Linked DNA regions of Homo sapiens. The protein of the gene in region 3 interacts with the protein of the main gene of each other region in a pairwise test. Each region holds a gene or a part of one and is shown on either strand. Other genes may lie near its edges.

Evidence for each region. The genes of interacting proteins can lie anywhere in the genome.
Region 1: the proteins of KATNBL1 (region 3) and ZNF572 interact in binary tests that used the Homo sapiens proteins (3 or more experiments, as listed by UniProt).
Region 2: the proteins of KATNBL1 (region 3) and TUT1 interact in binary tests that used the Homo sapiens proteins (3 or more experiments, as listed by UniProt).

Annotation. Positions count from the first base shown.
Region 1 is NC_000008.11:124,968,742-124,977,232, forward strand, and holds the start of ZNF572 (zinc finger protein 572), read left to right. Parts: upstream 1-4,553; 5' UTR 4,554-4,675; intron 4,676-6,864; 5' UTR 6,865-6,899; coding exon 6,900-6,978; intron 6,979-7,606; coding exon 7,607-8,491. UniProt on the Homo sapiens protein: May be involved in transcriptional regulation.
Region 2 is NC_000011.10:62,580,586-62,588,948, forward strand, and holds part of TUT1 (speckle targeted PIP5K1A-regulated poly(A) polymerase), read right to left. Parts: intron 1,117-8,363; coding exon 801-1,116; intron 622-800; coding exon 521-621; intron 1-520. UniProt on the Homo sapiens protein: Poly(A) polymerase that creates the 3'-poly(A) tail of specific pre-mRNAs. Localizes to nuclear speckles together with PIP5K1A and mediates polyadenylation of a select set of mRNAs, such as HMOX1.
Region 3 is NC_000015.10:34,206,702-34,215,207, reverse strand, and holds the start of KATNBL1 (KATNB1-like protein 1), read left to right. Parts: upstream 1-5,111; 5' UTR 5,112-5,257; intron 5,258-8,506.

The sequences.
Region 1 (8,491 bases), on a different chromosome or scaffold from region 3:
TCAGTTCATAACACCAACTCTTCTCTGCAGGAACGCATAATGAAAGAAAGTGGTAATGGTTATTGAGCAAACCAATATACAATATCCACCACAGCTTTAAAAAAATAAAGGTTAAATTATTCATTTCAACATAAGTAATAGTATAAGTTCAGAAGCAATATAAAAAACAGGTTAAATAAATACTGTTATATTTACCCAATGGAATATCATGCAACTGTTAAAAAAAAGAATACTGGGAGCTCTATGATAAATGTCTGTACTATTATAAAAAACTCTCGGTTGGGTGCAGTGGCTCATGACTGTAATCCCAGCACTTTGGGAGGCTGAAGCAGGTGGATTGCTTGAGCCCAGGAGTTGGAGATCAGCCTGGGCAACATAGTAAGACCCTGTCTCTACAAAAAACGAAGCAAAACAAAACAAAAACAACAAAAAAACCAAAACCCAAAATTAGCTTGGAGCTGAGAGTGGTAGCACACACCTGTGGTCCCACATACTTGGGAGGCTGAGGTGGGAGGATTGCTTGAGCCCTGGAGGTTGAGGTTGCAGTGAGCTGAGATCATGCCACTGGACTCTAGCTTGGGGGACAGAGTGAGATCCTGCCTCAGAAATTAAAAAAAAAAAAGAGAGAAGAAAAGAAAACTCTCCATGTTGTTAAGTGAAAAAACTAAAATTTAGAACAAAGTGAATAGTTTACTATATGTGTAGCAAAAGAAATGTATGAATATATGTCATCTATCTTTATTCATTACCTATATATGTGTATATATACATATGTATATAAGCAGGTAGGTAGGTATTTGCTCACATATGGCATTATCTGTGAATAATACACAAGAAACATACAACGTTGGTTGCCCCAGTGGTGAGAAGAACTGGATAGCTGGGGGCAGGGATGAGAGAGGACATTTCATTTTATGTATGTATTTTGGAGGTTTTTGTTCATTTGCTTGTTTGTTGAGAAAGCAGATTCTGAGACTGAGTTTAGTGTCCAGGGTGTTGATTAGGAAATGGCCTTGGTATCCAAACCTGTGGAAGGGTGAGAAAGGAATCAGGATTGAGCAGAGGGGGAAGACCTACAATTTGGGCCTGACAACACATTCCTCCATCAAGGCCATCAAGAACTCAGGAGTTGGCTGGGCACTGTGGCTCACACCTGTAATCCCAACACTTTGGGAGGCAAAGGCAGGAGGATTGCTTGAGCCCAGGGGTTCACATCAGCCTGGGAAACAAAGTGAGACCCCCCTCTCTACAAAAAAAATTAAAAAATTAGCAAGGCATTGTGGCACGTGACTTTAGTCCCAGTTACTTAAGAGGCTGAGATGGGAGGATTGCTAGAACCTGGGCAGTCGAGGCTGCAGTAAGCCGTGATTGTGCCACTGCATTCCAGCCTGGGTGACAGAGTAAGACTGTCTTAAAAAACAAACAAACAAACAACACTCAGGAGCTGAAATAGTGCATTTAAGAGTTATCCTGCTTTGGACAACATGGACAGCCTTTTATATTTCTGCCTTGATCAGTCCCCAGACGTGGGCTGCCTTGGAAAGGGCATGAGCTCCAGAAAGGCTATTCTCTGAAACTGAAGCACTCCCTGAGGGAGCTAACAGCTGAAAGCTTTCTGTTCACAGCACTCTCAAAGGTGGGCAACATGTACTTCCTTGGATTCTGAGTGATTCATCTCTGTGTCTGTCACTTACGGCCTATATGATTATGATCTAACCTCTTGAAACTTCTCTGACCTTACCTCCAAGTACTGTTCACTTCACTTGCTCTGCTCCTTATTGTTTCTTGAGTTTCCATCTCAGAGTCCTTTTTCTTACTGTTCCTGTCTTAATTGTTCCTCCCTTAAATAACAATGAGGCCCACGACTTTCTTCCTTCATACTTCTGCTGAAATATCTGCCTACTGAGAGGACTTCCCTGATCACCTTACCTGAAATAGTACACTTCCTTTAACTTCCTTTACTTCTTTTTCTAATACTCATCACTGCTTAACATACATTTCTTTGTTTACTTTTTGTTGATGTTCATTTATGATCTCCCTCACATTGTTTGGTTCCCTGGTGTATCCTCAGTGTCTAGGATAACACAGTAACAGGCACATAGTAGGCTTTCAACAAATATTTGTTGAATGAATGAATGAAGGAGTCAGGCACTGTGCTAAGTTGTAAGATAGAATTACAAGCAAAAGTGGAGGCAGGCCTTGTTCTCATGGAGCTTGCTATCTGGATGGAGAGGCAAAATAATGCATCAATCACACAAAGCTGCAGTCATGACATGGGCTAAAATGGAAAAAAAGATATGGTAGGAGAAGAGCATGTAGAAGAGCCTTGAAAGCTTCTGTGAGAAAGTGATGTGTAAGCTGAAATCTGAAGGATGAGTAAGCTTCAATTAGGCAAAGGAACATGGAAGAATCAGGTTCATTTTTGGAAAAGATCCCTCTGGATTCAACAGGGAAGAGTGAATGAGAGGGAGCAAGGATGGGTATCTATGGGACTGTTAGGAGGGTATGGAAATCCTTCAAATGGGGGGTGATGGTTGCTTGAATTAGAGGTGACCCTGGTGGTTAGAAGAAACAACTACAGGTGAGAATTATTTATTACACAACAGATGAGGCTTATTTATGAATTGTATATGGAAGGTAAGGAAAGGGAAGTGAAAAGAAGGGCTTCTGGGTTTCCATATAACTGGATGGATGGTTGAAAGAATATTGGAAGAGAAACAGGTTTATTTTGTTTTATTTTGTGTTTATATGTGTATATGGAGAAGAACAGTGAGAGAGAAGACAGATTATGATTTTGATTTTTGACATTTTGGTTTTGAGGTGTTATTGAGACTTCCTGTATGAGATGCCAAATAGACCATTGGTTATGAGTGAAGAGCTCAGACATGTAGCTTGGGCTGGAGAAGTAAATTTTTGAGTTGTCTGCCTAGGTGGTATTTGAAAATGTGGGAGTGGATGAGATTGCCTAGGCAGAGAACATTCAGTGATAAGAGGAGAGGATGATCTTGAGGGACTGACTTGGAAAAGAGACTAACAGGACTGACTAGAGATGTTGGAAGAAAAGGAGGAGAATGTGATGTCACCTCAAAAGAGTGTTTCTAGAAGACGAGTCCGTAGCCATATCAAACCTCCTGAAAAAGGACCCGAGAACTAAAAATACCAGTTGCACTAACTAACATCATGGAGGTCATTGGTGATGCTAGTGATTTTTTTGTTGTTGTTGTTGCAGGAGAAATGTTAAGGTTAGTGGAAAATTGATGAAATGGAAACATTGTGAGTAAAAAGAGAAAAGAAAAGCTGAGGGACTATTTGGGGATGGGGGTGGAGGGATGGAGAGTTTAGTTGGTAGTGCGAAGTTTCCAAGAAGATAGGTAGGAAAGTGAGTACCAGTAAAGGGCTTATTAAAATACCAAAGAGCCCAGCACTTTGGGAGGCTGAGGCGGGCAGATCATGAGGTCAAGAGATCAAGACCATCCTGGCCAACATGGTGAAACCCAGTCTCTACTAAAAATGCAAAAATTAGCTGGGCATGGTGGCGCACACCTGTAGTCCTAGCTACTTGGGAGGCTGAGGCAGGAGAATTGCTTGAACCCGGGAGGCAGAGGTTGCAGTGAGCCGAAATCCTGCCATTGCACTCCAGACTGGTGACACAGTGAAACTCCATCACAAAAAAAAAAAAAAAAAAAAAAAAGGTCACAGAGGGACTCTGTATTGTAACAGGAGGGAAGAAAGAAAACGGCAGGGTGCAGACTTGAGTAGATTTCTGTTTGGTAGAGGTGAGATGAAGGGATTGGCTTCTATTTTCTCTGTAATGAAAGAGGAGGGATTAACTACTTTTCTAGGTGTTAATAAGGGTGCCTTGTAAACGAATTGTTTTATATGTGAATGGATGCCTTAGCTTTCTAACTTTCACAGGTAAGTAAATATATATCCATGTTCATAGCGGTGGGAACAGAAACAATAGGTGTTTAAAAATACTAGATTGAGGCCGGGCGCGGTGGCTCACGCCTGTAATCCCAGCACTTTGGGAGGCCGAGGTGGGCGGATCACGAGGTCAGGAGATCGAGACCATCCTGGCTAACCCGGTGAAACCCCGTCTCTACGAAAAATATAAAAATTAGCCGGGCATGGTGGCAGGCACCTGTAGTCCCAGCTACTCGAGAGGCTGAGACAGGAGGATGGCGTGAACCCAGGAGGCGGAGCTTGCAGTGAGCCGAGATCGCGCCACTGCACTCCAGCCTAGGCAACAGCGAGACTCCGTCTCAAAAAAGAAAAATACTAGATTGATTTTGATTCTAATAGTGATGATAATTAATCTGATGATATTCTGATGGCAAGGAAAAGTATAAGCTCCAATCAGGCCCCTGTCGTAAGCCGCCTGACAAGTGAGAGAAATGAGGTTCACAGTTGGCTGGTCACAGCACAGGGAAAGGAAATCCACCCCCACGCTCCTTCTGGTCCAGGACCCTAAGGGTTAAGATCAACGAGAGTGGGCCATCACTGTTTCCTAGAACGGCCCCAGCAAAGCCGCCGGGGGAGATGAGGGTAACTTCCTGTTTCTGCCTTCCGGGTTTGAGAGTTTAGGACCCTGGGTTGGTGGGGTCAGAGGGAGAGGGGGTACCTTCCTCCCGGACCGCTGGGGGTGCAGGGCGCCTTGGGTGTAGCACCCAGAACAGTGAGTTCCTTCTTGGGGGGAAGGGAGCCGAGGGTTGCGGGCTAGAGGAGTGGAAACAGCCCCGTCCAGGCTGCAGTGGACGTCCGGGAGAGAGTTCCCGCTGCTGCCAGGGGCGAAGGCCCAGCATCTCCCGCCGACGGGCCACCGTCATCCTTGTCCGCGGGGTCCCTTACGGGATCTTGTCGGCCGGAGACCGTCTGGTATCCTGGAACTTCACCCCCCAGCGTCTCCAACTTGTACCAGCCAGCGGTTCTTAAAACTAGGCTTCAGGCAGTGCATTTTCTTTGAAGGCTTTCTGATCAAAGCACGGCCCCACTCTGATCACATTGTTGCTCTAGAACAGTGAAAACACTCCTTCCCCGTGGAGAGACATCTTAATGGCAGCCTTGTATGGTCTTGCATTTGCCACCATTTTGCTGAGCCACTGTTCCGGGGGCTCCTTTGCTGCCAAATTTAATAGTATTTTAGTAGGGAAAATGGGGGAGATGGTAATGTGTTGCCCAGACTCTTGCTGCTTTTGTAAATACTTTGATAACAATATGTAACTTAGGACAGCAAAATATATAACTCCATTCGAACAACTCCACCCCCTTCCTTTTTTTGCATTCAGGTGTATGGTTTTTTCTCCCCCCCAACTCAAACACTGGGGATATTAGTAATGTAGACTAGTTTCACGTTTCTCTAGAACAAATCCCCACTTGCTGAGTGTGCTTAGGGAATGTCGACTCACTTTGTTAACAAGGTTTAGGAATGTAGACCTCTGTTTTAAAATGCCAGTATTCTAAATATTCTAAAATAAAGGGACTCTGAGGATTCTTTGCAGTTTGGGATTATGCCCAGCTCTGCTTCCTGTTCTAGTTTACGATAATAGATCAGAGGGTGAAAAAGGTCAGCATCCAAACAGACTTGGAGCTCAGTCCTGCTCTACCACTTTCTAGGTGACCTTAGGAAAGTTTCTTAATACCTTTCAAACTCATCCTATAAAATGCTGGTAGTTGTTCATACACTTCAGAGGGCTACTGTAAGAATTAAATGACAAATGTGTGCAAATTATTTCATTCACTACCTGGCACATAATAGGCAGTAATGGTGAAGATACAATATAAGTACATATACTATTTTTTGTTTTTAAAATGTGTGCATTTGTATATCCTTTTACGTCCTTATTTTTCTCCCAAATAATGATACTCTTTATATTCTGAAATGGATGCCAAAAGTCCATATGTCACTGCCTTCCTGTGATAGATCACATTTTCTTCTTTTTCTTTTTCTTTTTTCTTTTTTTTTGTTGAGACAGAGTCTTGCTCTGTCACCCAGGCTGGAGTGGTGCAATGGCACGATCTCGGCTCACTGCAACCTCTGCCTCCTGGGTTCAAGCGATTCTCCTGCCTCAGCCCCCTGAGTAGCTGGGACCACAGGCGCCCGCCACCACACCCGGCTAATTTTTTGTATTTTTAGTAGAGATGGGGTTTCACCGCATTAGCCAGGATGGAACATTTTCTAGTCCCTTAAAATAGGTTAGTGATTGTTGGCTCCAGAAGACGAAGTTTAGGCTGAAATGGATATTGTGAATATGATAGACTTAGGAACTAAGTGCAAGGAGGAAGAGGTCCCTCTTTAGCCTCCTTTTTATATTGCAGGGTTATTGGCTATAATTATTCCACCTCGGCTTTGTCCTAATTTCTCTTTACTGGTTATATAAATCCTAACTTTCCTTTGAAATTGACTTCAAAGGTTTCCTTCTGTCAAGACCAAGTTATTCTTTTGAAACTAAACAGGGTGCTTTTTTTCTTTAGCTGCTGCTTATGCCTTCATATTGATTCCTTGAAGTCTTTATAAGTTTTATTATTGGTGTCTTAAAAAAAATACTTTGCTTTTTAAAGTAAAAGTGTTTCTAAGCTACGTGTGGACAATGAGGATTAGTATTCTGTCTTTGAAGCTTGATCCTCAGACCTTTAATGTGAAGATTTACTTTTTTGCATTGTTATTTCAGGGTTAACCCTTAATTCTAAACACTTAGATCTGAGATAAGATTTTCTAAAAGGGCTGCTAAAAGTTGTGTTTCTTATTTTCGGTATGGTTCATGGAACATTCTATGCCTCCTATTGTTGTGTTGGAATGGTTGGGAAGGAAGGAGGAAGAATAAGCTTTAACAAATACCTCCAAACATAATTTATTTCCTTCCACAGGGTTTCTGATCTCTAACTTGGCTGTGATCATTGTGATGGAGCAAGAAAAAAAACTGTTGGTCTCAGATTCTAACAGCTTTATGGAGAGGGAGAGTTTGAAAAGCCCTTTCACAGGTGAGGGATCAAGACGATGATCTGAATCCTTAGGAAATTTGATGTAGAAAGAACAGGACACTAGAATGAGACAAACCTTAATTTAATTCCTTGTTCTGTCACTTATAAGCTGTGTTAATTATTTCAGCCTCATTGTTCTCATCTTTAAGAAAATGAATAATATCTATTTCACATATATTTTAGAATTAGTGAGATACCGTATCCAAAGCTACTGTTCTTAATAAATAGTGGCTATTGTTATTTCTATAGCATTTGCTCAGATTTTAGCAAAGCTATTGTCTAGTTTTTACCTGAGATGGTATCCTGTTCAATTTAACTTCTATTCACATCAATCCTGTTTTTTCTCTTAAGTCTTCTAGAACAAAACCTAATGCATTTATTTTTAGATTGATGTTCCCTTTGCCAATAATGATTCAAATAATTCATTATTGTTGTTGCTAGGTACAAAAAAAAATCCACCTGCTTCTGGTAAACAGAGGAAAAGAAGTAAAACTGTCTTTAAAAACTTTTTTATATGAAATTATTTATGAGGTTTTACAGTGTTATTTCCTCTCTTCCACTGCAATTTAGAATTTACTTCTCTGGCAGAGATTTGGAATATGGTTAGAATATTTGTTTATTCTTGCAGGAGATACAAGTATGAATAATTTGGAAACTGTTCACCACAATAATTCTAAGGCAGATAAACTTAAAGAGAAACCTTCAGAATGGTCTAAAAGACATAGACCACAACATTATAAGCATGAGGATGCAAAAGAAATGCCACTGACATGGGTTCAAGATGAGATTTGGTGTCATGATTCCTATGAGAGTGATGGCAAGTCAGAGAATTGGGGAAATTTTATAGCTAAAGAGGAGGAAAAACCCAATCACCAGGAATGGGACTCAGGAGAACATACCAATGCCTGTGTCCAGCAGAATTCATCCTTTGTAGACAGACCCTATAAATGTTCCGAATGTTGGAAAAGCTTCAGTAATAGTTCTCATTTGCGTACTCACCAGAGGACCCACTCAGGAGAAAAGCCTTATAAATGCTCTGAGTGTGCAAAATGTTTTTGTAACAGTTCTCACCTGATTCAGCATCTAAGAATGCACACAGGAGAGAAGCCCTACCAGTGTGGTGAATGTGGGAAAAGCTTCAGCAATACCTCCCATCTTATTATCCATGAGAGAACTCACACGGGAGAGAAACCCTACAAATGTCCCGAGTGTGGGAAGAGATTCAGCAGCAGCTCTCACCTTATTCAGCATCACAGATCACATACAGGTGAAAAACCATATGAATGTTCTGTCTGCGGAAAAGGCTTCAGTCACAGCTATGTCCTAATAGAACATCAGAGGACTCACACTGGAGAAAAACCTTATAAGTGCCCTGATTGTGGGAAGAGTTTTAGTCAGAGTTCCAGCCTCATTCGCCACCAGCGGACACACACAGGTGAGAAGCCCTACAAATGTCTTGAGTGTGAAAAAAGCTTTGGTTGTAATTCTACTCTAATAAAACATCAGAGAATAC
Region 2 (8,363 bases), on a different chromosome or scaffold from region 3:
GTATCCATGTCAATTCTTTTTTTTTTTTTTTTTTTTTTGAGGAGTCTCCCTCTGTCACCCAGGCTGGAGTGTAGTGGCACAATCTCGGCTCACTGCAACCTCTGCCTCCCGGGTTCAAGTGATTCTCCTGCCTCGGCCTCCCAAGTAGCTGGGACTACAGGTGTACACCACACACCCAGCTAATTTTTGTATTTTTTTTTTAGTAGAGATGGGGGTTTCACTATATGTTGGCCAGGCTGGTCTTGAACTCCTGACCTCAGGTGATCCACCCACCTCAGCCTCCCAAAGTGCTGGGATTACAGGCGCGAGCCACTGCGCCTGGCCCTGTCAGTTCATTTTCATCCTATCTAATACTCATCCATATTCACATCTCTCCAATTACAATAAACTCTTTCAGGTAGGTCCTATTATCTGCATTGTAGATGAGGAACTAAGACATGGAGAGCTAAAGGACTTGCCCACAGTCACATGGCCATTCTCATGGACTTTTCCCAGCTGCCTCCCTGGGACACTCACTCACCTGGGGCTCTTCCAAGTCACCCAGATCCAAGAAGAGGTCAAGATCACAGCCATGGACATCGAAGCTATTTATGGAAGAGCCAAAAGGGTGGACCACACAGCCTGGGTGCCGAGCAGAGAAGAAAGGTCAAGAGAAGTTAGGGAGGAGCAGGGGGAAGAACAAAACAGAGCACAAAGATGGAAGAGCAACCAAACACCTCTAGCGGAGGAAGGACTGGGGATACAGACACAGGAGAGCAAAGGCCAGGGAGGGCTCAGACATAGTAGGGGAGGTAACTTACCAGGGAAGAACTCTGTGAAGACCTCCTGCATCAGGGCCACCACTAGGCTGCGAAGCTGCCGCTCGGCCTCGGACAACTCCCTCAGCCCCACAAGCTTTATCATTTGTGCCCCCACGTCTGCAGCCTCAGCTAGCGCTTTGGCCAGCTGGTGACTGTCGGGGGCCGCTCCTTTGGGGGATTTGGAGGCCGGGCTCTGGAACTCCTTCTGCTCCCGTGGGCGGACACGCAGGCGATGTCCTCCCAGGCTGTGCTGGGACTGTGACAAGACAGCCTCTCGAGCACCCACGTCCCCCATCTCCACAATGGCAAACACTCCCTGGTAAACAACAGGGGCAGAGATGATGATTTTGGAACCAAGAATCTAAGCACGAGATCTACAGTGGATGAGAATATTTGAAATGGAGACTATCCCATAAATTGAGAATATTTGCTTGCTGTTTTCATAATAACAGGGGACATATCTAGAAAAGCAATTTTCAGCCAGGTGCAGTGACTCATGCCTGTAATCCCAGCACTTTGGGAGGCTGAGGCAGGAGAACTGCTTGAGCCCAGGAGTTGGAGACCAACCAGGGCAACATAGTGAGATCCCATCTCTACAAACAATTTTTTTTTTTTGAGATGGAGTCTTACTCTGTCACCCAGGCTGGAGTGCAGCGGGGTGATCTCGGCTTACTGCAACCTCTGCCTCCCAGGTTCCAGCGATTCTCCTGCCTCAGTCTCCCTAGTAGCTGGGATTACAGGCACATGCCACCATGCCCAGCTAATTTTTGTATTTTCAGTAAAAATGGGGTTTCACCATGTTGGCCAGGCTGGTCTCTAATTCCTAAACTCCTAAACTCGGCCTCCTAAAGTGCTGGGATTACAGGTGTGAGCCACTGCACCTGGCCAGTACAATTTTTTTAAATTAGCCAGGTAATCCCAGCTACTGGAGAGGAAGAGATGGGAGGATTGCTTGAGCCCGGGGGCTGAGATTGCAATGAGCCGAGATCGCACCACTGCACTCCAGTCTGGGTGACACAACCACACCCTGTCTCAAAAAAAAAAAGAAAAGAAAAAGAAAATTAGCCAGGCATGGCAGCACACACCTGTAGTTCCAATTACTTGGGAGGCTATGATAAGAGCATCACTTGGGCCCAGGATGTTGAGGCTGCAGTGAGCTGTGATTGTGATTGCACCACTACACACCAGCCTGAGAGACAGCGAGACCCTGTCTCAAAAAAAAGTAGAAAAACAATTCTTTCCCTCACTCCTATTCCAAACATTTTACTCTCACCCCAGTCTGCCTCTAAAAACCTCATTTTATCTACATTATTTGTCCCCTACTCTTCCCAATGATGTGATTACACTATGACCCACCCTATAACTTTTCCTGATATAATTAGAATTTTTTTAAACATTTATTAAGGATCCATGTAACAGAATGAGTCCACTTTAAAAATCTTTTAAAAAATCAATTCATGCAGCTGGGTGCAGTGGCTCACGCCTGTAATCCCAGCACTTTAGGAGGCCGAGGTGGGTGGATCACGAGGTCAGGAGATAGAGACCATCCTGGCTAACATGGTGAAACCCCGTCTCTACTAAAAATACAAAAAATTAGCCAGGCGTGGTGGTGGGCGCCTGTAGTCCCAGCTACTAGGGAGGCTAAGGCAGGAGAATGGCATGAACCCAGGAGGCGGAGCTTGCAGTGAGCTGAGATGGCGCCACTGCACTCCAGCCTGGGCGACAGTGGGAGACTCTGTCTCCAAAAAAAAAAAAAAAAAAAAATCAATTCATGTAATAAACACTGTGCGAGGCATAAATACAAACTCATAAACCCTGTCTTCAAGAACTCACTATCTAGGAATAACAGCAATATAACAACTATATTGTTGTAAGTTGGTGAGTTCAATGATATTCACTGGCCATATTTTTTTAAAGGTAAAATATTAGCAAGAAGAGGAAAAACGCCGGGCGCAGTAGCTCACGCCTAATCTCAACACTTTGGGAGGCCTAGGCGGGTGGATCACTTGAGGTCAGGAGTTCAAAACCAGCCTGACCAACATGGCAAAACCCCATCTCCACTAAAAATACAAAATTAGCCAGATATGGTGGTGCATGCCTGTAATCCCAGCTACTCAGGAGGCAATTGCTTGAACCCGGGAGGCGGAGGTTACTGTGAGCCGAGATTGTGCATTGTACTCCAGTCTGTCCAGTCTGGACAACAAGAGCGAATCTCCGTCTCAAAAAGAAAAAAAAAGAAGAGGAAAAACAGGACTGCTTTAGGCAAAAAAGTCCATATTCTTTTATATCCTCCAATGGTAAAGCTGGACCCTCATCTTGTTTATAAAAAGGTTCCTGCTAGAGTAAGGTAGCACCAAGACAGAGTGGTGCTAGCATAAAGATAGACATTCAGATGAAGGGAATGGAATTGAGACCCTGAAAGAAATTCACACATCTTTGGTCAACTGATTTTGAACAACGGTGTCAAGAAGATTCAATGGGGAAAGAACAGTCTTGTCAACAAATTGTGCTGGGACAACTGGATAGCCACATGCAAAACAATGATGTTGAACCTTTACCTCACACCATACATAACAATTAACTCAACCAGGAGGATGGCTTCACCAGTACACAGGCCTAAATCACAAATGGGAAGTAACCAAGAAAGGATAAGGCGTTTCTTTTTGGAGTGGTGAAAACATTCTGGAATCAGTCATGAGGGTTGAAGAACCCTGTGAATATACTAACACTCACTGAATTGTATTTTTTTTTTTTTTTTTTTGAGACAGAGTGTCTCTGTCACTCAGACTTGAGTACAGTGGCACACTCTCGGCTCATTATTACCTCTGCCTCCCGGGGTTCAAGCAATTATCCTACCTCAGCCTCCCTAGTAGCTGGAATCAAAGACACGCACCACTACACCTGGCTAATTTTTGTATTTTTAATAGAGATGTGGTTTCACCACATTAGCCAGGCTGGTCTCAAACTCCTGATCTCAAGTGATCCTCCCACCTCGGCCTCCCAGAGGGCTGGGATTACAGGTATCAGCCACCACACCCACCCCTAAATTGTATACTTTTTTTTTTTTTTTTTTTGAGATGGAGTTTCGTTCTGTCACCCAGGCTGGAGTGCAGTGGCACGATCTTGGCTCACAGCAACCTCTGCCTCCCAGGTTCAAGTGATTCTCCTGCTTTCTGCCTCCCGAGTAGCTAGGATTATAGGTGCCCACCACCACACCCAGGTAATTTTTTGTATTTTTAGTAGAGATGGGGTTTCACCATGTTGGCCAGGCTGGTCTCCAACTCCTAACCTTAGGTGATCCACCTGCCTCGGCCTCCCAAAGTGCTGGGATTACAGGCCATGAGCCACCATGCCCAGCCAATTGTATACTTTTTGTTTGTTTATTTTTTTACCCAATAGTAAATAACCAACCAATGAATTGTATACTATTTATTTTATTTTACTTTTTTTTTTTGAGAAGGAGTCTCGCTCTGTTGCCCAGGCTGGAGTGCAGTGGCACGATCTCGGCTCACTCCAACCTCCGCCTCTCGGGTTCAAGCAATTCTCCTGCCTCAGTCTCCTGAATAGCTGGGATTACAGGAATCTGCCACTACGCCCAGCTAATTTTTTTGTATTTTTAGTAGAGACGGTTTCACCATGTTGGCCAGGCTGGTCTCAAACTCCTGACCTCAGGTGATCTAACCACCTCAGCCTCCCAAAGTGCTGGGATTACAGGTGTGAGCCACCTGGCCCGGCCACACCCTTCTTTTTTTAAAGACAGGATTTTGCTCTGTCACCAAGACTGGAGTGCAGTGATGTGATTATAGCTCACTGTAGCTTTGAATTCCTGGGCTCAAGCGAACCTCCCGCCTCAGCCTCCTCAGTAGCTGGGATGATAGGGGCACATCACCATGCGCAGACTTACTTCTACCCCTATGCCAAACACAGCAAAGAACTGAAGTGAGGCCAAGGACAAAGGTAGCTACTTGGACCTGCCCAGGCCAGTCTTCTGACTCTAATAAACCACAGTTTACCAGACTGCAGTACACCACCAAGTTTGTAACCAAAGCCCCAGATGGAAATTAAGAGTCTCTTTCACTGGGCCTGTCTGTGCTCCTATTTTTCTCCAAAACCTCACAGAAGGCATCAGGGAGGGCAGGACTGGCAGATTCAGAAGACTGTGTCAGCTGGGCGTGGTAGCTCATGCATGTAATCCCAGCACCCTGGGAGGCTGAGGCGGACAGATCATGTGACGCCAGGAGTTCCAGACCAGCCTGGCCAACATGGTGAAACCCGTCTCTACTAAAAATACAAAAATTAGCCGGGCATGGTGGCAGGCGCCTGTAAACCCAGCTACTCAGGAGGCAGAGGTTGCAGTGAGCCAAGATCGTGCCACTGCACTCCAGCCTGGGAGACAGAATGAGACTCCACCTCAAAAATAAATAAACAGGCCTGGCACGGTGGCGCACGCCTGTAATCCCAGCCTGTAATCCCAGCACTTTGGGAGGCCGAGGCAGGCGGATCACCTGAGGTCGGGAATTCCAGACCAGCAACATGGAGAAACCCCATCTCTACTAAAAATACAAAATTAGCCAGGCGCGGTGGCGCATGCCTGTAATCCCAGCTACTCGGGAGGCTGAGGCAGGAGAATCACTTGAACCCGGGAGCCAGAGTTTGCGGTGAGCTGAGATCGCCCCAAGCCAAGTTCGCGCCACTGCATTCCAGCCTGGGCAACAAGGGCAAAACTCCATCTCAAATAAATAAATAAATAAAAATAAGGAGCCTGTGTCCTTGCCATTTTTGTCCTCTCAACACCACCATCCATAGCTAGAGTTACTATTTGTTGAGGGCTTATTATAAACTAAGCAGTTCACACAAACGATGTCTGAGGCTCATAAGACACCTACGAAGTATGTATTATTATTTCCATTTTACAAATTAAGAAACTGAAACTCAAAGAGGTTAAGTAACTTGTAACTGCCTCACAAGCAGTGTCTTAAACTCCCAAATCTCCAACTGCCTACTGACCATTTCCCTTAAGAGAATGTTGTGGAGATTAGATGCAAGTGTACATAATGTGCTTAGCACACAATTGATGCATAGTAGTTCCTCAATAAAAATGTTAATCATTAGGCGGAGCACAGTGGCTTACGCCTGTAATCCCAGCAGTTTGCGTGGCTGAGGTGGGCAGATCACTTGAGGCCAGGAGTTCAAGACCAGCATGGCCAACATGGAGAAATCCTGTCTCTACTAAAAATACAAAAAATTAGGCCAGGCACAGTAGTTCACACCTGTAATCCCAGCACTTTGAGAGGCCGAGGTAGGCGGATCACCTGAGGTCAGAAGTTCGAGACCAGCCTGGCGAACATGGTGAAACCTGGTCTCTACTAAAAATACAAAAATTAGCCGGGTGTGGTGGCACGCGCCTGCAGTCCCAGCTACTCGGGAGGCTGAGGCGGGAGAATTGCTTGCTGGGATTACAGGCGCCTGCCACCACACCCAGCTAATTTTTGTATTTTTAGTAGAGATGGGGTTTCGCCATGTTGGCCAGGCTGGTCTCGAACTCCTGACCTTAGGTGATCCTCCCACCTCAGTCTCCCAAAGTGCTGGGATTACAGGCGTAAGCCACTGTGCCCAGTCGAGAGAAATACTTTTTCTAAAGGCCTCCTCAGTAAACTTCTACTTATATCTCAGTGGCCAGAATTCTACCACAAAAAAACTCCCTCTCAAAAAAAAAAAAAAAAAAAGGAAAAAGAAAAGGCATTTTTCTCAGAATAAAAGGAAAAAAAATAGAGGAGGGGACTCAAACTCAGCTGACACTAACCTTTTTTTATGAGATGGAGTTTCGCTCTTGTTGCCCAGGCTGGAATGCAATGGCGCGATGTCGGCTCAAGGCAGCCTCCGCCTCCCGGGTTCAAGCGATTCTCCTGCCTCAGCCTCCCGAGTAGCTGGGATTACAGGCATGTGCCACCACGCCCCGCTAATTTTGTATTTTTAGTAGAGACGGGGTTTCTCCATGTTGGTCAGGCTGATCTCGAACTCCCGACCTCACATGATCCACCCGCCCCAGCCTACCAAAGTGCTGGGATTACAGGCGTGAGCCACTGGACCTGGCCGACACTAACCTTTTATACTCTGCCCTACAAGCTGCCCCTTCTTCTTTTCTGAAGATATGGGGCAGCAGTATCGTAACTATGAAGAGCCACATACCAATAATGGCAGAGCAGGAAAACAGCAAAGCCCTGAACTGTCCAGGTCTGGACTTCTTGTTACATGAGAAAAACTAAATTCCTATTGTTTAAGCCATTTGTAGTTTGGTTGCTGAATGCAATCCCTAACAAACACAGGCTCCACCCCATTCTAAAAGATAACCTGGGCTGCAAAGGGATATTTTGGATCACCTAAGCCATGCCTACATAACAAGAGTACAGCCTCAGAACCACAGTATGACCAAGGAACACAGCACCTCAACAGTGAACTTTTTTCAAGGGACCAAAACCTACAGGGAAGCAACACAAAAAGCACAAGCTTGTTTATCTAACACTCTCCAAAGGACAGGGTGTTCTAACCAAACAACCTTAGTACCCTCAGTGTAAGTTAATAAACTGCTAACTGGTTTATCAACCAGGTTCTTGTGGAGTTGATCCAATGGTATGTTGTTCTTTAAGCACCAACTTTCACTATAATTACTTAATTGTTTACTTTCTCCTCTAGACTATAGGCTCTGTGAGAGCAGGGACCATATCTACCCCATTCACTACTCAGAATGCAGCCCTAAGCATAGTGCCTAGTACAAAGTTAGCTGTGAATAAATATTTGGCAAAGAATTCACTGAATCAATAGATGACACACACAAAAAAATCCCCCAGTGACTAACTCTGGTGAAGTGATAAAATCCAAAGGGTGGGACTGGGAGCAGTGGCTCACGCCCGTAATCCCAGCATTTGGGGAGGTTGAGGTGCACGGATCACCTGAGGTCAGGAGTTCGAGACCAGCCTGGCCAACATGGTGAAACCCTGTCTCTACTAAAAATACAAAAATTAGCTGGGCATGGGGGCACGCGCCTGTAATCTCAGTTGCTTGGGTGGCTAAGGTGTGAGAATTGCTGGAACCCAGGAGGTAGACGTCACAGTGAGCTGAGATTGTGCCACTGCACTCAAAAATATAATAATAAAAATAAAAATTCAAGGGGTGGGGGAGGTGTGAGAAGCTCCCAAAGCTGGTCTAGCCCAAGTACTGTGATGTCCATCAAGAATAAGCCACATTAGGAACCAGCTCAAAGAGGCTGTTGGTTTCTCTCTCTTGTCTCTTTGGTACACAGCACATCTGATTCATTCTTTTTTTTCTTAAGACGGAGTCTTGCTCTGTAATCCAGGCTGGAGCACAGTGGCACGATCTCAGCTTGCTGCAACCTCCACCTCCCGGGTTCAAGCGATTCTCCTGCCTCAGCATCCCAAGTAGCTGGGACTACAGGCATGCGCCATCACACCCAGCTAATTTTTTATTTTTAGTAGAGATGGGGTTTCACCATGTTGGCCAGGCTGGTCTCAAACTCCTAACCTCAGGTAATCCGCCTGCCTCAGC
Region 3 (8,506 bases):
ATTAATATTTAGACTTATTTAATACTGTATACTGTTTTATAAGATGCTATTTCATGAAGAGCGGTATTTTTACTTTTTAGAAAAGGCACAGGAAAAAGAATGAGTACATTTTTATTTCGGTTTTTTAAAATGTTTCTTATAGCTCTGCCAGATTTTCAGGCCTGTTGCTTTCATCCAGCCCTGATCATGAGGCACCATGCCTAATCCAGCTTCCACAGTCCTCTCCTCCCAGCCTACTGCTGCAGCCATACCCTATTCTCCAGGACCTGGACTAGTCCTGACACTCTTCTTAGATAAGAATAATTCTTAATAGTATTTGTGTTCTCCCATTTAAAGGATTAAGCGTTCAGATAAGTTTAGGAAACACTGCATGTATCTTTCTTTAAAAATTGACAACAAATGTTAGGTTTTTAAAGACCGAGAAGTGCTACAGTAAAGAAATATTTGTTTACTTCAGCAGTTACCAAACTTCTGTGGCCAAGGAAACCACTTTCTTCTTTTTCTCTTCTTTTTTGAACCTATCAACATCTCTTAGAACTGATGTCCTGAAGAACACAGAGCTAAGTTGGGGAAGTAACTCAAGCCAGTTTAGGTTCAGGCTCAATTGTGTTACTGCAAGAGCGGTTCTGCCTTTGTGTCTGGCTCCAAGAAGTGTCTTAGTAATCTTTCTACTGCTCCTGTCTCTTGAGGCTAGGGACCTGCTTTGCTCTTTTAAGTCCTCTTCCCAAGGACTTTCTGCTTCTGATGATTGTTGCCCTGCTAACTGCTAGCGCATTTTATTTCCTGCTTGCCTGCTCGCCAGGAACTCCTCTGTACTTCACCTGTTATGGGGTCCCAGTTGTACTGAACATCTCCCCTCCCCCCACCACCTCCACCAGCAACTGCATACATAATTGGATTTGTTTTGCATATGATAGGACTTTTCAGGTACCCTGTTCTGGTTACCAGGCCATCAGCATCACAGTGAGTCTGTTCCGTGCCTCCTGACCCCACCCCCAACATTGACACTTCACCCTCTCCTGCACCCTGACCCCCAGGTAGTCTAATTCCAGGACTTCCCTTTTCCAAGGCAGCAGTCAACCATATTGTATTCTTCTCTATCTTGGAAAAATCACTAAACTCAGTTTTTCAGAGAGAGACACAATCACTGCTCTAGGCATTGTTGTATATGTTTTATATAGGTTATCCCACTTCCCAACAGCCCCTGAGAGGAGAGTGTTATCCCCATTGCACATTAAGGTAAAAACCGGTGTAGAAACGGCCCAAAGGCAGCAATCTAGGTTTTAAATAGAGATGAGCCTTGCTCCAAGGCTAGTCTAACATGCTGCCCCCACCACGTTCCACCTGGTGACAGTATAGTCTAATTGCAGGAAATGTACTTGCAGGAGGAGAGAGATGGTTTCTTGAGATTCGGATTTGAAAGTCTATAAATACCAAATATTATCATAGTCATAAATGTTTTTGGGTCACCTGATCTCAGTTGTAGATTTACAATAGAGGGCTGTAGATGTAGCAGAAACAAGCTATCTTAAAAATAGGATCCCCCATCACTCAACACCTCCCTACCACCCACCCTTCACCCCGCAAAAAACACTACCAGGGGTTTTGTTTTGTTTTTTGGGTTTGTTTTTGTTTTTGTTTTTTTTGCTTACTGCTTCTGCCATTACTTCCTTCCACAGCCTGCAAAGGAAGGTAGGGAAGGGAGGAGCAGAAAAAAGGGATTGACTTCTCACTTTGACTGCTAAAGTCAACTGCCTAGAATTTTCCAAAGGTGCTGAGGCTGAGCAGTGTGGAATGGGTGAGCTGTTGCTGTCTTTTAGGTCCCTTCAGGCATTGTTCTCTGTCAGAATCGGCATTGGTCTCAATGAGAATGACATACAATGCAGTAAATGATATGGCTTCTAGGACCCTAGACGGAACTACACTTTTATACCTAATGTTATTGCTATCAGTCATTCCTCCCTACCCCTGGCCATCCAGCATCCTGGTAACAAATCAACTCTTCTTCTTCTTTTTCTTGCTTTTTTTTTGGTTGGTTTGTTTTTAAGAGACAGGGTCTTGCTCTCTTGCTGGACTACAGTGCCATAATCATAGCTTACTATAATCTTGAGCTCTTTGGCTCAAGTGATCCTCCCACCTCAGCCTCCCGAGTAGCTAGGACTACAGGTATGCACCACCATGCCCGACTATTTTTTAAATTTTTTGTAGAGTTGAGGTGTTGAAATGTTGCCCAGCCTGGTCTCAAACTCCTGGCCTTAAGCGATCCTTTCACCTTGGCCTCCCAAACAGATCAATCCTTCTAAAGAACTGACTTAGTCATTCCCCTGCTCAATTGTCTTTGCTGTCTCCTTGCACCTCAAACACTTTGCTTGATAATTCCAGGTCTTCGCAACCTATCAGGTGCCTTACGTACCTTTTCAGTCTTCACTCCTGTGACTCTTGCAAGCACTTTTCCCTCCACTCAAATCAGAATAGACTGCAGTACTAGAACTTACTTTGCATTTCCACCTCTCTGTCAGGAACATCCTGTCTGTCCTCTCCAGTTCATCAGGCCCAGCTCCACCATCCCTCCCCTGCTTGCCATCAAGCAGTGTACACAGGACTGCATGGCAGCTCTTTTCTCATGTGGGTCACTCTACACTGTGTCCTTGAATGATTCTGCACCCCGTAGAGAGGGGGATGTGAGGCAGGAAGGCTAACTTAGCTGCGTGTTCTCTCAGAAGGAAGGAATGAAGGAATGGCCAGAGGAGTAGACACCCTTGGAGACTGCCCACCACGAAGGCTATCAGTAAACCACCTTTTTGTACACAAACACTGATGTAGGGATTTTTTTAATGTATGGGCTGTACCTTTTTTTAGTAAGAATTCAAATTTTATTGAGCCCCAAGGGGGAAAAATTCAACTTTATTGATAGGAAAAGTATCAATGAAGAAAGTTGCCTTGCATTTTCATCACTAAAATGACAGTATTTGTATATATTCCAAAAGTAGCAATGCAAAGGCAGTTTTCCTTATTTTTATGTGAAATTATGAGATGTGAGGGCCTGGGCTGCCCATCACTGATACAAACTTTATAACTTGGCTCTGGAGATTAACCTGCCTGAGATCCTGTGCCCTAACAAGCTCCAGAAATGAGAATATCAAGGTTCTTCTCTGGCCTCCAGCAACTGGAGGCCTTGTATTAGCTGAGATTCTTCTGTGTTAACACAGCAGATTCCCTGAGTTCCAGGACTCCATTACTTGTCTTAATTCTTTAGCCTCCCTTGAGGATAACGATCATATAGTACACTCTTTTTACCCTATTCTTCTGATGAGAGGCCAGCACAGTGCCTTTTGCATAGTGGGTCATCAAGAAATTCCTGTTCATGATGATGAAGAAATGACTTGAGAGAAAGTGACTTCACCCATGTGTGTTGAATTTTTATTTTCTTTAAAACAACACATCTACTTAGTGGAAGTCATATTCAGGAAATATTCTTTATTGTACATACATGGAACCTAGGGCTCCAGCTTCCTTTACTCACCTAGCTGGACTCTCTCAACAGTACCACCTGTTAACAGATGTGGCCCCACACATAGGCATGTATGTGCCTTGCTTATGCTTGGTACAATCGAGAAGCTCTCAAAGGTGTTGCTTATGCCAAATATCCTAAAACTATTTTCCCACTGCCCTAAGGTCTTGCCTCAATTTTCAACATGACTTTTTTTTTTTTTTTGATTAAGTAAGGACTCTGTTACTAGGGAGGAAAAATACATAAAGTTATAACAACCTGATGACATCTTAGTTCTGATCAGTTTATCTGACAGGCCTCCCATTGCTCGGAACTCCCACGGCATTTAGGAGATACCTTTTATCACTGCAGTGTATTGGAATGATCTCTTTTCCTGTTTTTCAAGCCACTGAGAGCTGCTTCAGGCGATTTCCAGCACCAGGCACAATTTGCCTGGCACATGGCGGGCCTTCAAAAAGATTGTTAAACCAAACTTAAGCAGCCTGCTCCCTAGGCAAGCCTTGAGTTCCGAAATGAGTGCCTGAAAAAGCAAGCCAAGGGATGTAGTCTTGTGGTGAGGAAGTATTTCCACCAAAGGCACTGCTTGGTTGGTTTCTGCAAGGGGCGAGAGAACCACCATAGACAAACTTGCTCCTGTCACAGCTTGGCTAACCTTGACCGGTGGCTTATCTATGAAGGTGAGCAGCCTGGTTCTAATGAAGAGAACTGCCCTCAGTAATTAAAAGTTCATCATCTACAGACCCAACCCTAACCTCATAATCTAATTTAGTGTTCCCCATCCCAACAAGACCGAACCAGCTTCCTGAGGACAGGTTCTGCATCATGTACATTTCTTGTGTTCTTAAGAGTCTAGCACAAAGTTTGGCACATAATAGGAACTAAAAAAATGATGACTAACAAACACGAAGGGCTTACCATATGCCGGGCACTCCTCTAAGCATTTTATATGTATTAATTCATTTAATCCTCACAACACTAAGAGACAGATACTATTGTTATTGTCCCCATTTTACAGAAGGGGAAAGCAAAGCACCTAGGAGTTTATGTGACTTGCTCAAGGTCACATAGTTCCACAATCCATGCTTTTAGAAACTATGCCTTAGAGCGTTTATTAGTATCATTTTTATTTTTATAGAGACGGGGGCGGAGGTGGGGGGTGGGGGGTAGTTGTCCCCATGTCGTCCAGGCTGGTCTTGAATTCCTGGGCTTAGGTGAACCTCCTGCCTCGGCCTCCCAAAGTGCTGGGATTACAGGTGTGAGCCACTGTGCCCAGACTCTTAGTGTATTTAAATAGGTGTGAATGAATAAATCTCTCCCGGAACCATAACTTTATAGGAAATTGTTTGCACCTCCTGGTACACCACTAAGGCACGGTCTCCCACACTAGGTTGTTCCTAGCGCACGGTCGGTCATTCGTTGACCTTTACCCACCCTCAGTTCCTATCGCAGTATCACTTCTCGCGCCATAGCAAGGCTACCGTGCGAAGCTCTAGCCACCAGGGGGCACTGTGGCCACAGGTCCTTTTCCCCTCCGGCCCTTAGCGACCCCCAGAGGGGCGGAGCCAACGTTGGGCGGAGCCCGCGAGCCGCCCACAGCGCCAGCTATCCCGGCGGGCCGCGCGCGCGGCCGCGTTTGAATGGCCCTGAGTGGGACTCGGCCCAGAAGCCGAGGGACTCTCTAGGCTGCCGGGCGCTGGTCGTCAGCGCCGAGGCTGGGCTGAGGCGCCGCGGTACCATGAGGCGCCGGTAAGTGACTGCCGAGCCGGTGCGAGCCCCGCGCCCGCAGCTGCCCTGCCCTGGCAGGGCTACTCCAGCCGGGCTTGGCCGCGCCCTGGGCCCACCTGCAGGCCCCGCGGCGGCCTCGGCTCGGCCGGGCTCGCGGCAGCGCTGCCGGGTCCCGGGGCGGGGCGGCAAGGCCGGGGCGGAGCCCCTCTGCCGGTCCCTGCGGGGAGAGTCGGGCAGCGGGCGCTGGGGGGCTCCAGGGGACTGGGCCGGGAGAGGCGTGGACCGAACCTGTTGTCACTTATTTATCTTCGGGTGGAGTCGACAGCTGCACCTGGGGAAGGGGAAGGACAGAACGAGTGTGGGGCGAGCATTTTTGAGGACAGGTTTTCCGCAGAGCGCCTAGGCCCGGCCCAGGCATTTCCTTATTTTCCGACGGGTCCTCGGATTCCTGACGGATGAGCTTTTGTTTCGCAGGACAAAAACTTGACATAACTGCATAAGAATTGTCGATTGCAACTTTAAAAACCTTACTGTATTTTCTGAAAAGTTGTTCTGTAAAGTATCTAGGCTTTTACTACGCTCTTATATTGCTTAAATATGGAGATAACAAAGAGTTGGTTTGTTTTCTTGTGGCTTATAAAGTTCCTTGAAAACAGAGATACCTATGTCAGTTTCTTTGCTGATTTAAAAAAAATTGTAAGAGAAATTAGGTGTGTAATAATCATCAGTTCAGCACTTGCGAGAATTATGAGAAACTAGTCCACCTAATAGCTTAAATCTGCTGGGTTTTTTGGAGTTTCTTTGGATAGCCAGCTTCAGACTTGAATTGAAACGTCATCCATTGAGGCTTTTACTTGGCTAATAACTAATATTAGCCAATAATAATATTAGCCAGTGTGATCATAATGATGGGCAATATTTATTTTGTGCTTTCTATGCGCTGGGCGTATTAAGAGCTTTACTTTGGGATATATACTGTTGTCCCCATTTTGACAGTGAAGAAACTAAGGCACAGGAAATTTTAGTATTGTAACTTTTGTACCGTACAGGGTTACACAGCTAATATAATTAACACCCGAGCAGGCTGGCTCCACGCTTTTAACTCTGTTGCTCTACTACCTCCTTTATCTGTGGCTCTTTTTAGTTTACAAAGCCCTTTCATTTCATTTACTTAAACTTCGGAGACCTGAGTGTGCTTTTGTGTACACATACATTCATTCACACACCATTCATTCAAGTTTTCTGCTCTTGATGATTATACTTAAGGTTTGTGCCTGAGCAAAAAATCCATTGACTATTTTAAGATAAATGGAGTTCATAAGCTTTATGTGTGTTATAATTTATGTTTTCAATTCCTTTATATCCTTTCCTGAAAGTTTTGAAAGTGTTAGTCTTAGCAACTTATGTATTACTTTAAAATAAAAAATTACATGTTAAATGTTTTCATCCCTAAAACTTATTGAGTGGTTATTCTGTACTTGAAATGGTTATACTTAAACTAATACCTCCTTGACAAGGAATAAATTTCAAAAGCAAAATCACTTAGTAAGAAATCAGCAGTTTATACTTATCTATAGCAGAGCTTTTAAATGTCATTCATCAGTTACAAAGCTTTCGATTGCCTGTATGCCCAACAGGGTGGTAGACCCAATTGGCTATACAAAAGAAATGTGCCGCAAGAATGACACTATGGACTTTGGGGACTTGGTAGAAAGAGAGTGGGAGGGGGATGAAGGATAGAAGACTACACATTGGATACAGTGTTCACTGCTCAGGTAATGGGTGCACCAGAATCTCGGAAATCACCCCTGAAGAACTGATTCATGTAACCAAACACCACTTGTTCCCCAAAAACCTATTGAAATAAAAAATAATAAAAATAAAATAAAAAATGTGCCAGGACAACCAACCTTAGGGAGATTAATCTAGTTTGGGTTATGAGATTAACAACAAAAAATATATATGACACTCTTCGTTAGTACAGTGGATGAATGCAGAACTGAACTGGGTAAAGCTTCTGCGAAAAACTAACAATTGCAGGATTTATGTAGGGCACTGAACAGAAGGGTGGATGGTGGGGCTAGGCAGGGTTGGTAATCCCAACACTTTGGGAGGCCAAGACAGGAGGATCTCTGGAAGCCAGGAGTTCGAGAGCAGCCTAGGCAACATAGCGAGACCATATCTCTACAAAAAATTTAAAATATTTTGCCAGGCATGGTGGCATGTGTCTGTAGTCCCAGCTACTTGGGAGGCTGGGGTGGGAAGATCGCTTAAGCCCAAGAGGTCAAGGCTACAGTGAGCCGAGATTGTGCCACTGCACTTCAGTGCAGCCACAGAACTGGTGTGGCTCACACCTGTAATCCCAGCACTTTGGGAGGCCAACGGTAGGAGGAAAGCTTGAGCCCAGAAGTTTGAGACCAGCCTGGGCAACATACCAAGACTCCATCTCTACAAAACATTTTAAAATTAGGGCCAGTGGGTCATGCCTGTAATCCTAGCACTTTGGGAGGCTGAGGCAGGTGGATCACAAGGTCAGGAGATCGAGACCATCCTGGCTAACACGATGAAACCCTGTCTCTACTTAAAATACAAAAAATTAGCTGGGCGTGGTGTCACACGCCTGTAGTTCCAGCTACTTGGGAGGCTGAGGCAGGAGAATCGGTTGAACCCAGGAGGCAGAGGTTGCAGTGAGCCGAGATCGCACCACTGCCTTCCAGCCTGGGCGACAGAGTGAGACTCCATCTCAAAAATAAAATAAAATAAAATTAGGCAGGTGTAGTGGCATGCGCCTGTAGTCACAGCTGCTTGGGAGGCTGAGGTGAGAGGATTCCTTGAGTCCAGAAGTTGGAGGCTGCAGTGAGCCATGATCATATCACTGCACTCCAGCCTGGGTGACAAAGCAAGACCCTGTCTCAGGGAAAAAAAAAAAAAAAAGTATTGTCTAGTAACAACAAGATGCATCATAACATTACACTAGTCAGTATTATGTTGATGTTTTATCAATCATTATATTTGTTGATCCATGTTAGTTAATTTGGTGCTTTCTGGAAAATGTATTTAGGAATATAATGTTTTTTAATTAAACACCTTAAACCTAATACAAATGGTACTTTTACTGGGAGCATACACTTTTTAAATTGGAAGGGTGTAATTTGACTTTTCTTTTCTTTTTTTTTTTTTGAGACGGAGTCTTGCTCTTGTCTCCCAGGCTGGAGTACAGTGGCAAGATCTTGACTCACCACAACCTCCACCTCCCGGGTTCAAGCTATT